Linked DNA regions of Homo sapiens. The protein of the gene in region 1 interacts with the protein of each later gene in a pairwise test. Each region holds a gene or a part of one and is shown on either strand. Other genes may lie near its edges.

Region 1 (7,657 bases):
TCACCACAAAGTATCTCTTTTGCACAATGTGATTTTCTGTCAGGGGAAATTTTGTAAGATCAATCAAAAAGAATTCAAAAGCTTTGTCTTTGAGAACCTGGGCCCAGGTGTGAACTGCGGCCCAGAAAAGTGTCCCAGATATCACAACGACATAGGCAGCTTTCAATTTAGGAACATTCTGTTAAAGGACAGTAACATAAGTGAAGAATGCAACTGTGTTTCCTTGTTAAAAGCTTGTGTACATCTCTTTTCAAGTTTGACTCTAGGGTACTCGGAGAGGTAGGTGAGGCACAGATGATTCCTGTAAACAATGAACAGACTGAAGCTCAGAGAGGCTGAGCTACTGGCCCGAAGGACAACAGCTCATGGAGGGTGGATGTGCTGGTTTCCAAGATTCCAGGCCTGTTCTTTGGACAAAAGATCGGGGTCTGGAGCCTGTTACCCACTTCACAGACACCTCCCCGAGAGCCCCCCATAAGGTAAAGGGAAATGTTGGGTGCCTTCTGCTTACCAGAGTCCAGATTCCCAGGCCCAGGACCAACACCTTCAGGATGGAACCTGCCACCTCTCAACCCCCTCCAGCCCCGCCAGCCACTCATCCCAGCCTACCCCTCTTCACTCTCCCCCTGCCCAGATTCCCAGGCCCAGAACCAACACTTTCAGGATGGAACCTGCCACCTCTCAACCCCCTCCAGCCCCGCCACCCACTCATCCCAGCCTACCCCTCTTCACTCTCCCCCTGCTCAGAAGCACGTTGGGGTCTCGGGTCAGACAAAGTCTGAGGCTCTGTCTTCAACAGCATGGTGGAAGAAGGGAGCCCCTCACCACACACGTGGCACCTGAGGTCTTGGCTGGACCCAACAGCACTGGCCTGTCCACAGGGAGCACCTGCCCTGCCAGGTGTGGGGCGACCCAGGTGGGGAACAGAACCGCTGCCGCAGGGCACAGAAGCACTGATGCTGTATCAGCCAGGAGAGGCACCAAAATTTCAGGGCCCTTGAGGGGAGAAGGAGAACCAGGACCTTGAGTTTGGCTCAAACCTAGCTTTGCTGCTTCTTGGCAGTGAGATGCTGGGCAGGTGTTGAAGCCTCAATTTCCACTATCTATAGAATGAGTAGCCCCACCTTGGAGGTCTGAGGTGAGAGTTAGGAGGCTCTAGATGGCCTGACTTTTGTTCAAACGCAAAGAGAGGACAAACTCATTCTGTTTGGAAGGAGGGAGGCAGTGGTGTCTGAGCTAGACTCAGATGATTTCCCACAAAAATCTCTGAGATCTGGGGATCTGGGGCCTCCTGTGTTTGGCTGGATGATACAACCTGTGAATACAGGTCTCAGGGAGCCTTGGGGCAAATTACTTCCTCAGCCCAGCATTTCTGGGCTACTTTACAAGTAACGAAGAATTCCTTTGAGACCACCGGCCAGCTTGAGAGCTAGCCAGTGCCACAGATCCCACAAAGGTGATTTCAGACTAGACCCACCCCCCAGAAAGGCCAGCAGCGCCCCTCTACCAGGATAAAAGATGAGAAGGCTCCGGCTAACACAGGGGACCTGACACCCTGGCCTACCGGCTGCCTGCGGGGTCAAGCCTGTGTGCTCCCAGCCCAGGCCACATCTGCATTTGCACACCGGATGCCGCACAGTGAAATAAAAACCTGGTATCTCCTCAGAAGCAGGAATATGAACCCACTTCTCGGTGGGGGGGTCACCAAACACTGCTTCCCAGTGGGTTGTGATCCCATAGGGAATGGAAATGCTGAATATATCACAGAATCTCGGAGACGGCGGCCTCCTCAAGATCTCCGAAGTTCCTTCTGACCCAGAGAGCCTGGAATTTTGTGAATTCGAGGCAGGCTCAGGGAAATTGAAAGCTAAAACTCACCTTTGTCCACATTACATGAAGATTTACATTAAATCTCTTCGGGAAGCTGAGAAACCTACCTTCCCAGGAATCTTGATTCAGGACCCACCCAGCTGCCTAAGGCTCAGTCAAAAGTATCAATTATGCACCGTTTCAATGACATTTAACTTAATTTTTAAATTATATGTTTCAATTCTTAATTAGACACCTAGACGTACCAACTAAACTTTTTAGGCAAAAGTGCTGTTGGGTAACAGGAGTAGAGTGTAATTACCTCACCTCAACCACTCTTTAGTTTCACACGAAACAGGGAAAGGCAAACCCAATATACTTTTTGCAACTCACATGAAAAACCTGAAAACAGCTTTATCACTCTTTCACCAAAGCTGAAATAACTGTCTTGTTTTACTAGCAAATGTTTCTTACTCAAATCAACTAGCACTCCAACACAAAAGTCAATCTTGGTATTTTTAAGTAAAAATTCTCTTTGTTCCGGGCCACCACAGATCACTGTTCTGTCCCACCGGTTTGAGCTGAAGAGTAACTTAGCAACTCTCAGTTTTGGCGATGAGATTTCAGACTCCCCTCCCCTGGCTCCCCTTCAGGCACCGAGAGGGCAAATCTGTCCAGAAAGCGTTATTTCTTCTCCCGAGTATTCACGAGGTTACAAGGAAAAGGGTGCCTGAAGAAGCTCCCTCCCGTTCCCGCAGCAGCCGCCGGCAGGTCCCAGGACCCACGCCAGGACCCCCAGCACGTCTGGGTACCCGCGCCCCCTCCCACCCCAGTCCCCGCGCCCGCCCGCCTTGATGCTCGCGCCTTCACCCCGCCCCTACCCCCGCGCCCCCACCCGCCCCTACCCCGGCGCCCCCACCCGCCCCTACTCCCGCGTCCGCTCGCGCCCCCACCCCACCCCTACCCCCGCGCCCCCACCCGCCCCTACTCCGGCGCCCCCCCCCACCCCGCCCCTACCCCCGCGCCCCCACCCGCCCCTACTCCCGCGTCCGCTCGCGCCCCCACCCGCCGCAGTCCCCGTGCCCCCTCTTACCCGGGCGCCTGGGCCGCCCCCGCCGTCTGCTGTGCTGAAACCCATGCTGGACCCTGGTCTCCCGAACTCCGACGCTTTCCCCGAACTCTGCCTGGTCCCGCTGTGCACTGGGCCGAGGCCGCCTTCGCCGCGCGCGTTCCCGGGGCCCCGCCCGATCCGGGCGAGAGAGGGGCGGGGCCGGGGTCTCCCCTAGGAGGCTCCGAGGGTCCGGCCGGGGCGGGGCGTCTCCCCTGGACCCGGCTGCGCAGCTCCCGCCTAGCCCCGGACGCGCCCACCTGGGCGGCTCCTCCCCGAGCGCGGGCGGCAGTGGCTTCTGCTTTTGTTCTCTCGGAGCCCGGAGCTCGGGGACCTGCCATTTTGTGGATGCCACGTTGCACCCGGACGGGCCCCTGGTTTCCATAACGTAGAGGCACAAATCTGAATGCTCCAGGGCAGAGGATCTGACCCCTGAGTTCTGCCAGTGTACCCGGACGGGACCCCGATTTCCCCTGGTCTAGGCGGACCAGCTCCAGATTTCTGCAGGTGTGGACGGCCCAGGCCCTCTCCTCCGTCCAGGGGCCGCTGTGGGAACTACGTGCCACCCCGCGCCTGGCTTGGATAATGAAGGGCTTCAGCGAGGGCCCCAAATTCCATCACCCTCCCCCCCCACAACTCAGGGTGCCTCGGGGTGTCTGGTGCTCTGGAACATGCTTTCCCCAAAGGTGCAATTTTAATGCCTTGATCTACAAAGAGCCTCCCAAAACAAAGTCCCTCTCCCGCCCGTTAGTCCAGGGTGCTCTGGGCACCAGCTTCCTGCTGGGAATTCAGCTAGGGAGTGTCTCATAAGGTCCACTCCGTCCAGGAGGGCCTCACAGGGACCCCACCTCAACCTGTCCCCTCAACTTGTCCCTCACCCCTACCCTGGCACCATCCCAAAAACTGCGGCACAGATGTGCTCATTGACAGATAATGCTCCGTTTTGTCACAGGTTACAGAGTGGATGAAGCTCAGGGACACAGCTGGGAGCCTCCCTCCTATGCAGCTCAGGGACACAGCTGGGAGCCTCCCTCCTATGCAGCAGGCAGTCAGTCTCCCTGGGATCTCCGTCGAGGCCTCCTTGAGTCTCTGTCTACTCCTTCCTAGAATCCCTGTCCACACCTCCCTGGGATCCCCTCGAGGCCTCCCTCCCTTGAGTTTCTGTCTACTCCTCCCTGGAATCCCTGGCTGCGCCCCGCCTTGATTCTCCATCTACACCTGTGTTCTCACTGTTCCCTGTCCTGCTTACTTGCTCTGCTTCCTAGAACCTCCAGCCCCATCCCTGAGCCCAGGCAGGGAGCTGACCTGTTCCTGCCCTCTGTGCTGGGTATCTGGGTGTCCCTCTGTGCTGGCCCCTACCTGAGGCCCCCAACACCCCTGCCACACCCTCCTCCCAGCCCGTCCTCGTGACAGTACTGCCCACGGTGCTGTCCAGGATGGGAGCCACCTTTCTAAGCCTGTGTGGCCCCACAGCTCCTGCCAGAGCAGGACCCAAGAATGCTGGCATGCCTCCAGAATAAACGGCTTCATCCCTGTTCAGCACCTCCAGGACGGTCAGCAGTGACCCAGTGGCGCCTGGTCAGGGTGCAGCCCGGAATCTCACTCTTACTGGAGACTTTGGGGCCCGTGGTAGGAGCTCACCCCTGCCACACCTCCACTATACAGAAAGAAAGTGGGACCGTGTGGGGCTTTCTCAGCCCAGGAGTCCTTTGTGAGCTTCTCCAGCCCGTTTCTACAGATCTGGTTCTTTCTTTGCCATGGATCCATGGAATTAGGGATGTTTTCTAGGGAGTTTTTCCAAAACATGGACTATTAACATAGCTTGGTTTATTCAAAAAGTACTTACTGATCAACTACTACTGGTAGTCACAGCACAGCCCCCATCTCTGGGAAGCTGACATTCCAGTGGAGGGAAATAAACCAGTGGACAGAACACAAATCCGGTCAAGGAAGGCCTCTCTGATGGGGCAGGCTGAGCAGACACTGAGAGGAAGCTACCTGGGACTTGAAGGCAAAGGAGCCACCTGTGCAAAGGCCCTATGGGGTGGGGGGGGGGCAGATCTGGTGAGCTCACAAACACAGCGAAAGTGGGGACACTCAGAGGGGATGGAGTTAGAAAGGAAGCGACCTGTTCCGACTTACATTTCAGAGAGCTCAGCAGGCGGAGGCAGGAGATCAGGAAGTGGATGCCTGATCTTGGTGAAAGTGATGAGGTTGGGTTCCAGGGGAGTGACAGAGGTCATGGGAAATGGTCAAAGCAGGACCTGTAAAGGCAGAGGGGGCAGGACTGCTGAAAAGCTGGCTGCGGAGACAGAACCCAAAGAGCACAGAGGCAGACACTGAATTAGTGACCCTGCCACCGCCCCCCCCCCCCGGGGTGTGCCCTCCAGTGTGCAGAAGCTGGAGGCCATAATGCCACGCTCCGGGATCCCTTGCAGCTGGTGTGCAGATGTGCCCGGTTTTGCCAGGAGATGCACCACATGAGATGTGGAAGGAACACAGGAATCGGGCTGGACACAGCAGATGGATGTTGAGGTGTTTGGTTCTTCTGGGTCCCGTCCCTGGCATTGTTGGTGCTGAGCAGCAGGGGACGGGGAGGGGGGTTTCCCTAACACAGTCCTACAGCGTGGCTGGGTGTTTCTCCAGGGTTGTGGTTGTTTCTCGCTGTTCTGGTTTCCTGACTCTCCCATGGATGCTATGATCTACCCAATGGCTTCACACATATCCTCACTGCTTAAATTAGCTATAGCGGATTCTGCTGTCTGCAGTCACGAGTCAGCACCAACACAGCAATTCAAGGATTTGGGGCCTGACCAGCAGGTGGAAGGTGTTTCCACTGACTGAGATGGGAGAGACTGGAGAAGCATGTCTGGGGGGAAATGCCATATTAAGATTGAGATGCCTATTGAACATACTGAGTGGACTGACTGCTGTATGAGTTTGGTGCTTGGAGTAGCGGTTGGGTTAGAGATGTGGTTCTAGAACCATCTACCACACAGTTGTGTCTAGACAGGTGGAACTAAGTGTGTGGACAGAGGGGAGGAGGAACCAGGACTGGGCCAGGAAATGTGTCCATGCTTAGAAGTCACAAGAGTAGATAGATCTCTTTCACAAACTCTTTTTAAAAACTGGAATGGAGGGACCGCTTCCTAACATATGGTAGGAGGCCAGCCCTTCTCAGATACCAAAGCCAGATGAAGACATTGTGAGTAAAGAAAAACTACACACCAATATCCCTTATGACTACAGATGCAAAAAGCCTCAAAAGAAAGTCAGGGAATAGTATGTTAAAAGGACTATTCACCATGACCGAGTGGGATTTATCCCAAGAACACAGGGGTGGTTCAATATAAGAAAATCAGTCAATGTCGTGCACTGCAGTAGCAGCACGAAGGGAGAAAACCCACACGATCATCTCAATCGATGCAGAAAGGGCTTCTGAAAATGCAATACCCTTTCAGAAAAAAAGTTCTTGGAAAACAAGGATGGGAGAAAATTCCTCAAGTAATACAAAGTATTTATGAAAAACCCACAGCTAACATCATACTCAATGGCAAGACTGAACATTTTCCCCAAGATCAGGAAGAAGACAAGTGCCCACTGCTGCCATGTCTAGTCAACACTCTGCTGCAAGTTCCAGCGACAGCAACAGAGACAACCAACAAAAAATAAATAAATGAAAGACTTTCAAATTGAAAAGGATGAGGTAAAACTCTATTCACAGGTAACATGTTCCTATATAGAGAAAATTCCAAAGAATACACAAAAAGCTACTAGAGCTAATACAAAAATTCAACAGTTACAGGGTACAAGATTAACATGTGAAAATCGGTATTTGTATTTCTATACAACAGCAATGAACAATATGAAAAGGAAATTAAGAAAGCAATTCTATTTACAATAGCATCCAAAAGAATTAAATACCTAGAAATAAGTTTAACCAAGGAAGTGAAAGATTTGTATGCTAAAAACTACAAAATATTGAGGAAGAAGTTCAAGAAACAAATATATGGAAAGCCAATGTCATGTTCATAGATAGAAAGACAACATTGCTAGGACGTAAATACTCATCAAAATGATCTACAGATTCAATGCAATCTCTGTCAACATTGCAATGGCTTTTTTTTTTGCAGAAATGAAAAAGCAGGTCCCCAAATTCACGTGGAATTGCAAGGGGCCCCAAATAGCAAAAACAATCTTGGAAAAAGAATAACAAAATTAGAAGACTCATACATACTTCCTGAATTTGAAATGTACCCCAAAGCTACAGTAATTAAAACAGTACAGTACTACCATCAGGACAGACCAACAGAATAGAAAAGAGAGCCTGGAAATAAATGCTTAACATAGACAGTCAAATGATTTTTGGCAAGGGTGCCAAGAACATTCACTGTGTAAAGGACAGTCTTTTCATCAAATGGCACTGGGAAAACTGGATATCCATATGCAGAAGAATGAAGTTAAAGCTCACCTTACACCTGTAAAAAATTAACTCAAAATGAATCAAAGACCTAAACTTAAGAGCTAAAACTATAAAACTCTCAAGGAAAACACTGAAGTAAATCTTCATGGCATTGGATTTGGCAACAATTTCATGGATATTAAAGCAAAAGCATTGGAAATGAAGTTAGATAATGAGTTTCATCAAAATAAGACCTTTTTTTACATTGAAGCACACTCTCAAGAAAGCAAAAAGACAATCTGCCAAGTGGAGAAAATATCTGCAAATCACATATCTGA
Region 2 (7,023 bases), on another chromosome or scaffold:
AGTTTCTAGCTTTCTGTCAGCCCTACCTCATCCTTTTTTCGTAGTGTCTAACTCTTACTGTAGGTATATTTTGCTGACTCTAGAACTGTTGGAAAATTAACAGCACCAGTGTAGCTTTTTAGATAGAGATCCTTTCAAGTTTGAAGTGCTGTATGTGGTATGGCTTTGTTTCGTAGAGTGTGCAGAACCACCAGGCCAGCTGTGTGAGTTAGAGTTCTTTCATTGTGGTGCTTCTGACTACAGAGTCTGTCTGTCCTCAGTTGAAATCAGACTAGCTGGTTTTGGGCGTTGTTCTGTTTTGCAGTTTGTGGCAGGCGACACATGGCTGAACAAGATAAGGGTTTTATTCTTGTGTTAGGGACGTGCTGGGGCTGGGATGGAATTCAGCTATGTTTAGGCTCTGATTGGTCACTTTGGATACTCAGAACTCTGTTACATCCTGTTATTATTTTGCAGTTAAATCAACACATTAACTTGCTCTCTTCTCTTTCCCTTCATCTTTTACTCCCCAGTCCGCACCCCTTAAAACCTAAAACTCAAACTTTTTAAAAGACTTTAAACTCAAACTATGTTCATGGTAGCTATTACTTCTATGTAGTATATCCAAACAGCTTTAAAAAAAATGGTAAGCAATTTATGAGCCCTGGAGTCTGTAGTTTTCATCGTTTAGAATGAGCACTTGACAAGTGTAGAAATGTCTGATTGCTGCTTTTTAGTCTGCATTGATTGCTGCATTCAGTCTTAAAATACATCCTAATCGTTTCCAATCCTCCTACATGTCTTTCTTGTATCCCTGAGAATTTAGGGGTCCTATAGCAATTGGAATTTCTTCTGAGAGGTAGACAGGAGAGAATGCCCTTTTAGTAGACTCAGTAAATGATTTCAGGCCAGTGTCTATAACATTGAATTTTCAGGGACAGTACAGGTAGGAAAGTTATAGGGTTCTTCCTTGAAATAAATGGACTTTTGTTTTGGCTAGGGCTTATGAATTTTGTAGTTTTTGATTTATAGATAAAGACAGGTTTTTGATACAATTTTTTTAAAGCACTGAATTCAGCTTTGAGCTGTTTAACTTAAGCAGATTTTTAAAGTGAGTGTGGAAACCTGTGACTTTATATGCCTGTACCCAGTAATTAATGATACTTTTCATTAGTGATACTTTTTCTGTCAAAATTGCTGTATAATGGTTTTGATTAAAAAAAAAAGAGCTACTCATGTTTATATGTTATTTTCAACGTTGCATGAGTCATCTCTCGGCAAGGTGAAATTATTTGTAACCTTTTCTTGTAAAGTCAGCCAGTCCATAAATACAAAATTGAAATGGGGGCCAAAGATCACAGTGTTAGTTTTGTATTCAGTTTTATCTTTGCCTTTTTAGTTCAGTATAAAATCTTGAGTCATAAAGGTATGCAATAGTACATTCACTTGTACAGTTTTACATGAGTCAACATGCAGAATCTAAAGTAACTTTTTTTGAAAGTACAGTGTTGTAGTCTTCCTGATTAATGGTACATTTATATGATGTTCATATTCAGTAAGGTGACAAGAGAAGCTTTATTTGAAATCATTACAAAAATATGTTAACCTTGGAATACCACTTAACACATTGGTGGTTTCCGGTTGTTAACATGTATATACCATCGAGTTAACATGTAGGTTTTTTTCTTTTTTGAGTCTTGCTCTGTCACCCACGGTGGAGTGCAGTGGCGTGATCCCCTCACTGCAACCTCCGCCTCCCAGGTTCAAGCGGTTCTCCTGCCTCAGCCTCCTGAGTAGCTGGGATTACAGGCACCCACCACCACGCCTGGCTAATTTTTGTATTTTTAGTAGAGACGGGGTTTCACCATATTGGCCAGGCTGGTCTTGAACTCCTGACCTTAGGTGATCCACCCGTCTCGGCCTCCCAAAGTGCCGGGATTACAGGCTTGAGCCACCGAGCCCAGTGGTTTTTTTTGTTGTTGCTGTTGTTGTTTTTTAACTAAGTTTGAGTTTTCAGTTTAAAAAATGAAATTTGAGGCAAACATTCATGGAATCCATAAATGGTGAATTTTACATATGTTTCTGTGGAGCATTGCGATTCCAGGGAAAACAGTTGGAAAATATTTCATTGTACATATGTGGTTGCCTCTTCTAAATGTCATCCAGTGGTGGGTATGAATTGCTTCCCAAACTGATACGGGTCACAGAAACAGCAAGATAACATACTGGTTCCCAGAGGTAATTGAAGGGACTCTTTTGCATCATGGTTGTCTGACATTATTAGAAATGTTTCTTATATACTTGCTTGTTTCCTAGAAATTGACCATGACACATTTTCAAGAATAGTAGCTTAACTTCTTTTGGTCTTTTCTGTTAAAACTTGGTTTTGATGATGTTCCTGAGCTTTATTTGAAGACATGCTCCTTTCCCTTATAATAATTACAGGTTTTCAAAATAGTGCCATGTGAGTTAAAATTTTTAAATCAACAAAATTATATTTTTGCCTTCTTTTGAGTAAAATACCATCATGTAGGTAATGATATCCTGTGGTAGTATAATTCTTTAACATTTACAATATTTTCAGTTCAGTACAGGGCAGATCATGCTTCTGTCATTTACACTTTAAGCTAATTCATACAGTTTAAGTCAAGATTTTAAGTCAAGATTATAAAACTAGAAAGGGCAGACCCAAGATTTTAACCTAGATTTTCTGGCTCTCAAGTCCCCCATTGTTTTTTTTCATTTTAAATTATTGTCTTTCTTTGTACTGTATTTTTCTGTGCTATTTTCCTTTAGTAACTCTCCAGCTTGATGAAGTCAGTTGGATTTTTCTCTTACAGCATAGTTTCTAGTACCTTACCCATTCTAATTTTAAATATCTCTTGAGGATAAAGCTTTTGTCACTTCCTCAGGAGACTGAAGCACAGTCTGATAGATCTTGCTGTCAGGAAGTTTTTCCTGATCTTTACGTCTAACTTTTCTTTTAAGTTGTCCTGTTACTTGTATGTACTTGCTGTACCAGGCTAAATAATGCTCTCCTCCCATTTTATGTTTGTATGATTCTAAATGTTTCAGACGGTTATTCATTATCCTTTCCGGTCCCCTTCCCTTACTCTTTGCTTAGCCAAGCTGTATGCTTTCTGTTGATCCATTGTCTAAAAATCAGCTTATCTTAATATTTCATTAGCTTTTTCTCAGTTGCTCTCCTACTGCAAAAATATGGGTAAAGAGATTCTCAAGGTCATTTTGATTCACTTTTATTTTAGATAGTCTTTAGGATGGATATGAGATATGTCACAGTCAAATGAAACAAATTTATACAAACAGCATGATTACCAAATCAACTAATTAAGCAATTACTCATGTTCTAAAAGGCTTTTTTACAAAGCGATTCTTTCAAATATGAGTACCCTCAATGTAACAAATGTTATCAATTCTATGACAAAAGGGTAGGGTATAGAAATAATGTTAGCCACCTTTGATGGAAAATCATCTTGTTGCAATATGATGAAATACATCAGGAAGTTGTTTCTTATTTTTTCCAGTGGTTTTTCAGTTCGTTATCTTAAATTGTAGGTCAAAACATTCCTCGATGTTTGGTTTATTTTTACCTTATTGTTTTGTCTCCTCTTATTTCCACATGTTAGTGAAATAACAATGCTTAGCAGTATTTTTTTTTTCAGTAAAATGGATATTGTGAAAATTGAAATATTTTACTTTCTTGCTGTTGTATTTACAAGAATTGTTAATGACAAGACAGTGTAACAGAAAAAGTGCATATTTAGATTATTATAAAATCTGTAAGACTGTAGACCTTTTGAATACTTTATTAGCATATTTTCTTTAGTACTATTTTAGTTTCAAATTATTGAGATAGATGTCCTTGTTTTGTATTTTGCTAATATTAATATTTTGTATTTTGGTAATACTAAAATTTGCAAACATGCCAAATTTAGAGCATTTTACTTTTTCAACTTAGAATATCTGGAATCATCAAGATAGTCATATAGGGAAGACCGCTATAAGACAGCTTCTAACTCCAATAGAAGCCTATGAAGCTAGTGCCTGGTCAGAGGCTGTGCCTAAATTGCATGAGTATATAGTGTCGACTTTTAGTAAAAGAAAAAATACACTAACTTTACCTCTTGAATTAGCATGCACCAATGCAGTTTAGATTCATACCGAAACAGGATCTTTTACTAATTCAAATGCTGAGTCCTGGTTTTTGAGATCACAGTCACATGACAGGCCTGGGTGGCTTCTCAGTGTCTAGAGACAAGCAAATCTACTGGCCAATGAAAAGTAGGTTTCCTGTCTTGGACTGCAAGTAACAATTCATGCAGAAATTGGAACTATATAAGAGAGCCTGGTTTTAGTTAATGCTTTCAATTAGCTGCTTGTCACACTGCTTTTTCTTTTGGTGTTATATAACACATTAGAGTCATTTAAAGGTACACTCTGATACTACAGTTTTTGTCAAATATTACATATAAATGTTGATTTTACATTCATATACTCAAAAGATCAAAGAGGACTTTGTAGATCTTTTATGGATTCAAAAAAATGTAGATTATTTTGTTGTAGAAAAACTGGCCAGGCGCGGTGGCTCATGCCTGTAAATCCCAGCACTTTGGAAGGCTGAGGTGGGCGGATCACTTGAGGTCAAGAGTTCAAGACTAGCCTGGTCAGCATGGTGAAACCCTGTCTCTATTAAAAATACAAAAATGAGCCGGACCAGGTGGCACATGCCTGTAATCCCAGCTACTCGGGAGGCTAAGACAGGAGAATCACTTGAACCCGGGAGGCGGAGGTTGCAGTTAGCCAAGATTGCACCACTGCACTCCTACCTGGATGACAGAGCAAGACTCCGTCTCAAAAAAAAAAAAAAAAAAAAAAAAAAAAACTGGAGACTTCATCAGCCTCTGAAGGAATGATACCTGAAATTGATCTTGTAATGCAGAAAGTGGCTATATGTTATCCAGAAGAGTAACAGATACCCCAAATACACTTGCTAACACAAGAAATCCTGTGAAGGTGCTTAGACATACCCTTCCATAGATTTTAGATGGGTTATCTGCCTATGTTCCAGACACAAGCCGATATGTTGTGGTTTGCCCAGTACAGTCTCTGTGGTTTACTGAGAGGAAGTGGTTCTTGTGGGTGAAGGTCTGATCTTTTCAGAGATTGTTGGTGGCATATGCACTGTCAGCCTATTTCCTGTTTTATTGGCTGTTTAGCAAGACCTTCTTAGGGCAAGTGCTGCTGAAGAGGTATTTAAATATTTTGTATTGGCAGGATAGATGGTTATAATGATGTATTATTATATCACTACTTCTCAGGTGATATGAGAGTTAAATGAATGTTTGTGAAGTGCTTTGAGATCTTAGGATGAAAAGTACAGACATGTTCTTAGTCATTTGCAGGTTACTGCTATGTTCAGATATTGCTCTCTTGAAGTTAAAACTTGTTCATGTAGTAAAGTGTTACTCTATTAAACTTGATTTCTGTAACCATTCAAGTGTTGTTTTATCACCACAAGAGTCATGATTAGAATTTTTCCCCTTTTTTTCCTTTCTTTCAATGCTCCTTTATGATTTTACCCTAGAAGAGTTTCCTTAATAGATTCCTTGCTCTAGTACTGGTTAAGGCATATTTACCAAACTTAACACCTAGCAAGCTTGTCCAACCTGCCTTATTTTGCTGTTGTTCTTCTGTTTTGTTTTGTTTTAGGCTTTCAGCAGCCTGAAGCCATGGTTTTTAGTTTCTGTCTCTAGTGATAAAACGGAAAGAGGGATGAGGAAGGGGCTTTACTGGCCCATCCAGAAACAGAAACTAAGAACCCATGACTGTATTCTCTCCCTTGAACAACTGTAACTAGAGCAAACCTCTTTGCCAATTTAACTGGCATACTAAAATAATGAAATTGTGAGAATTTCCTTTGAGATTAGTAACTGTACCATCCATATACAAAACACTATATTGCTTTGCTGAAACCTGAAAGTGAGCAAACTGATAGAAATGCATATAACAGGCCGGGCGTAGTGGCTCACGCCTGTAATCCCAGCACTTTGGGAGACCGAGGTGGGCGGTTCAGGAGGTCAGGAGATCAAGACCATTCTGGCTAACACGGTGAAACCCCGTCTCTGCTAAAAATAGAAAAAATTAGCCGAGTGTGGTGGCGGGTGCCTGTAGTCCCAGCTGCTGGGGAGGCTGAGGCAGGAGAATGGCATGAACCCAGGAGGTGGAGCTTGCAGTGAGCCGAGATCGCGCCACTGCACTCCAGCCTGGGCACAGAGCGAGACTCCGTCTCAAAAAAAAAAAAAAAAAAAACGAAATGGCGTATGTCATACTCCTAAATATATATATATATACAGTATTTAGCCTTGGACGTTAAAAAAATTAACAATGAATGGGGGAAGGCTTTATTTAAAGCTAAATTGTTAGCTAATACGTGAGTTCTTCAAGGGTATAAGAATAGTTCTTATTCATTTTTAAGTAATTATCGGTAGCCTTATTATATTTTTATTTTTTAATACTGAAAAGCAGAAGGAAGAAAAATAAATGGCCCAAATGATCCAACTACCCAGATGTTGCTGCTCAGGTTAAACGCACACACGCATACACACACAGAAAATTCAAATCATATAAAATGGTATAAAAAAAAGTATTCCTACACACCTGTTAGTTTTCATACCTTCTCCTCATAGGTAACAATAGTTAATTTTTTTGGTTTATCTTCTGAAACATTTAAAAATATATACCAGCCTATAATTTTATTTTTTGCACCTACTCCATAATAAGTGTATCTGTCTTCTTTTGCTAGGTTATGCTGCTGTAGCAACACTATCAAATTTCAGTGGCTTACAACACTGCTTTTCTTCTTGCTTATGCTACACCTTGTCAGCTGTGGATTGACTGCAGCATTGCTTCACGTTTCTTATTTTGGAACCCTGGCTCAAGGAGCATCCCCTGTCTGGGCTGTGCCATTATTGTGGATGAGGGAGAGAGCAAGAAAACAGATGCAGACATACAATGGCTCTTAAA

The links. Proteins that work in one complex are often made in the same cells at the same time.
Region 2: the proteins of PLEKHG4B (region 1) and ARHGEF12 interact in binary tests that used the Homo sapiens proteins (3 or more experiments, as listed by UniProt).

Annotation. Positions count from the first base shown.
Region 1 is NC_000005.10:87,522-95,178, reverse strand, and holds the start of PLEKHG4B (pleckstrin homology domain-containing family G member 4B), read right to left. Parts: upstream 3,012-7,657; 5' UTR 2,948-3,011; coding exon 2,903-2,947; intron 1-2,902. UniProt on the Homo sapiens protein: Guanine nucleotide exchange factor (GEF) which specifically activates small GTPase CDC42 by exchanging bound GDP for free GTP.
Region 2 is NC_000011.10:120,339,413-120,346,435, forward strand, and holds part of ARHGEF12 (rho guanine nucleotide exchange factor 12), read left to right. Parts: intron 1-7,023. UniProt on the Homo sapiens protein: May play a role in the regulation of RhoA GTPase by guanine nucleotide-binding alpha-12 (GNA12) and alpha-13 (GNA13). Acts as guanine nucleotide exchange factor (GEF) for RhoA GTPase and may act as GTPase-activating protein (GAP) for GNA12 and GNA13.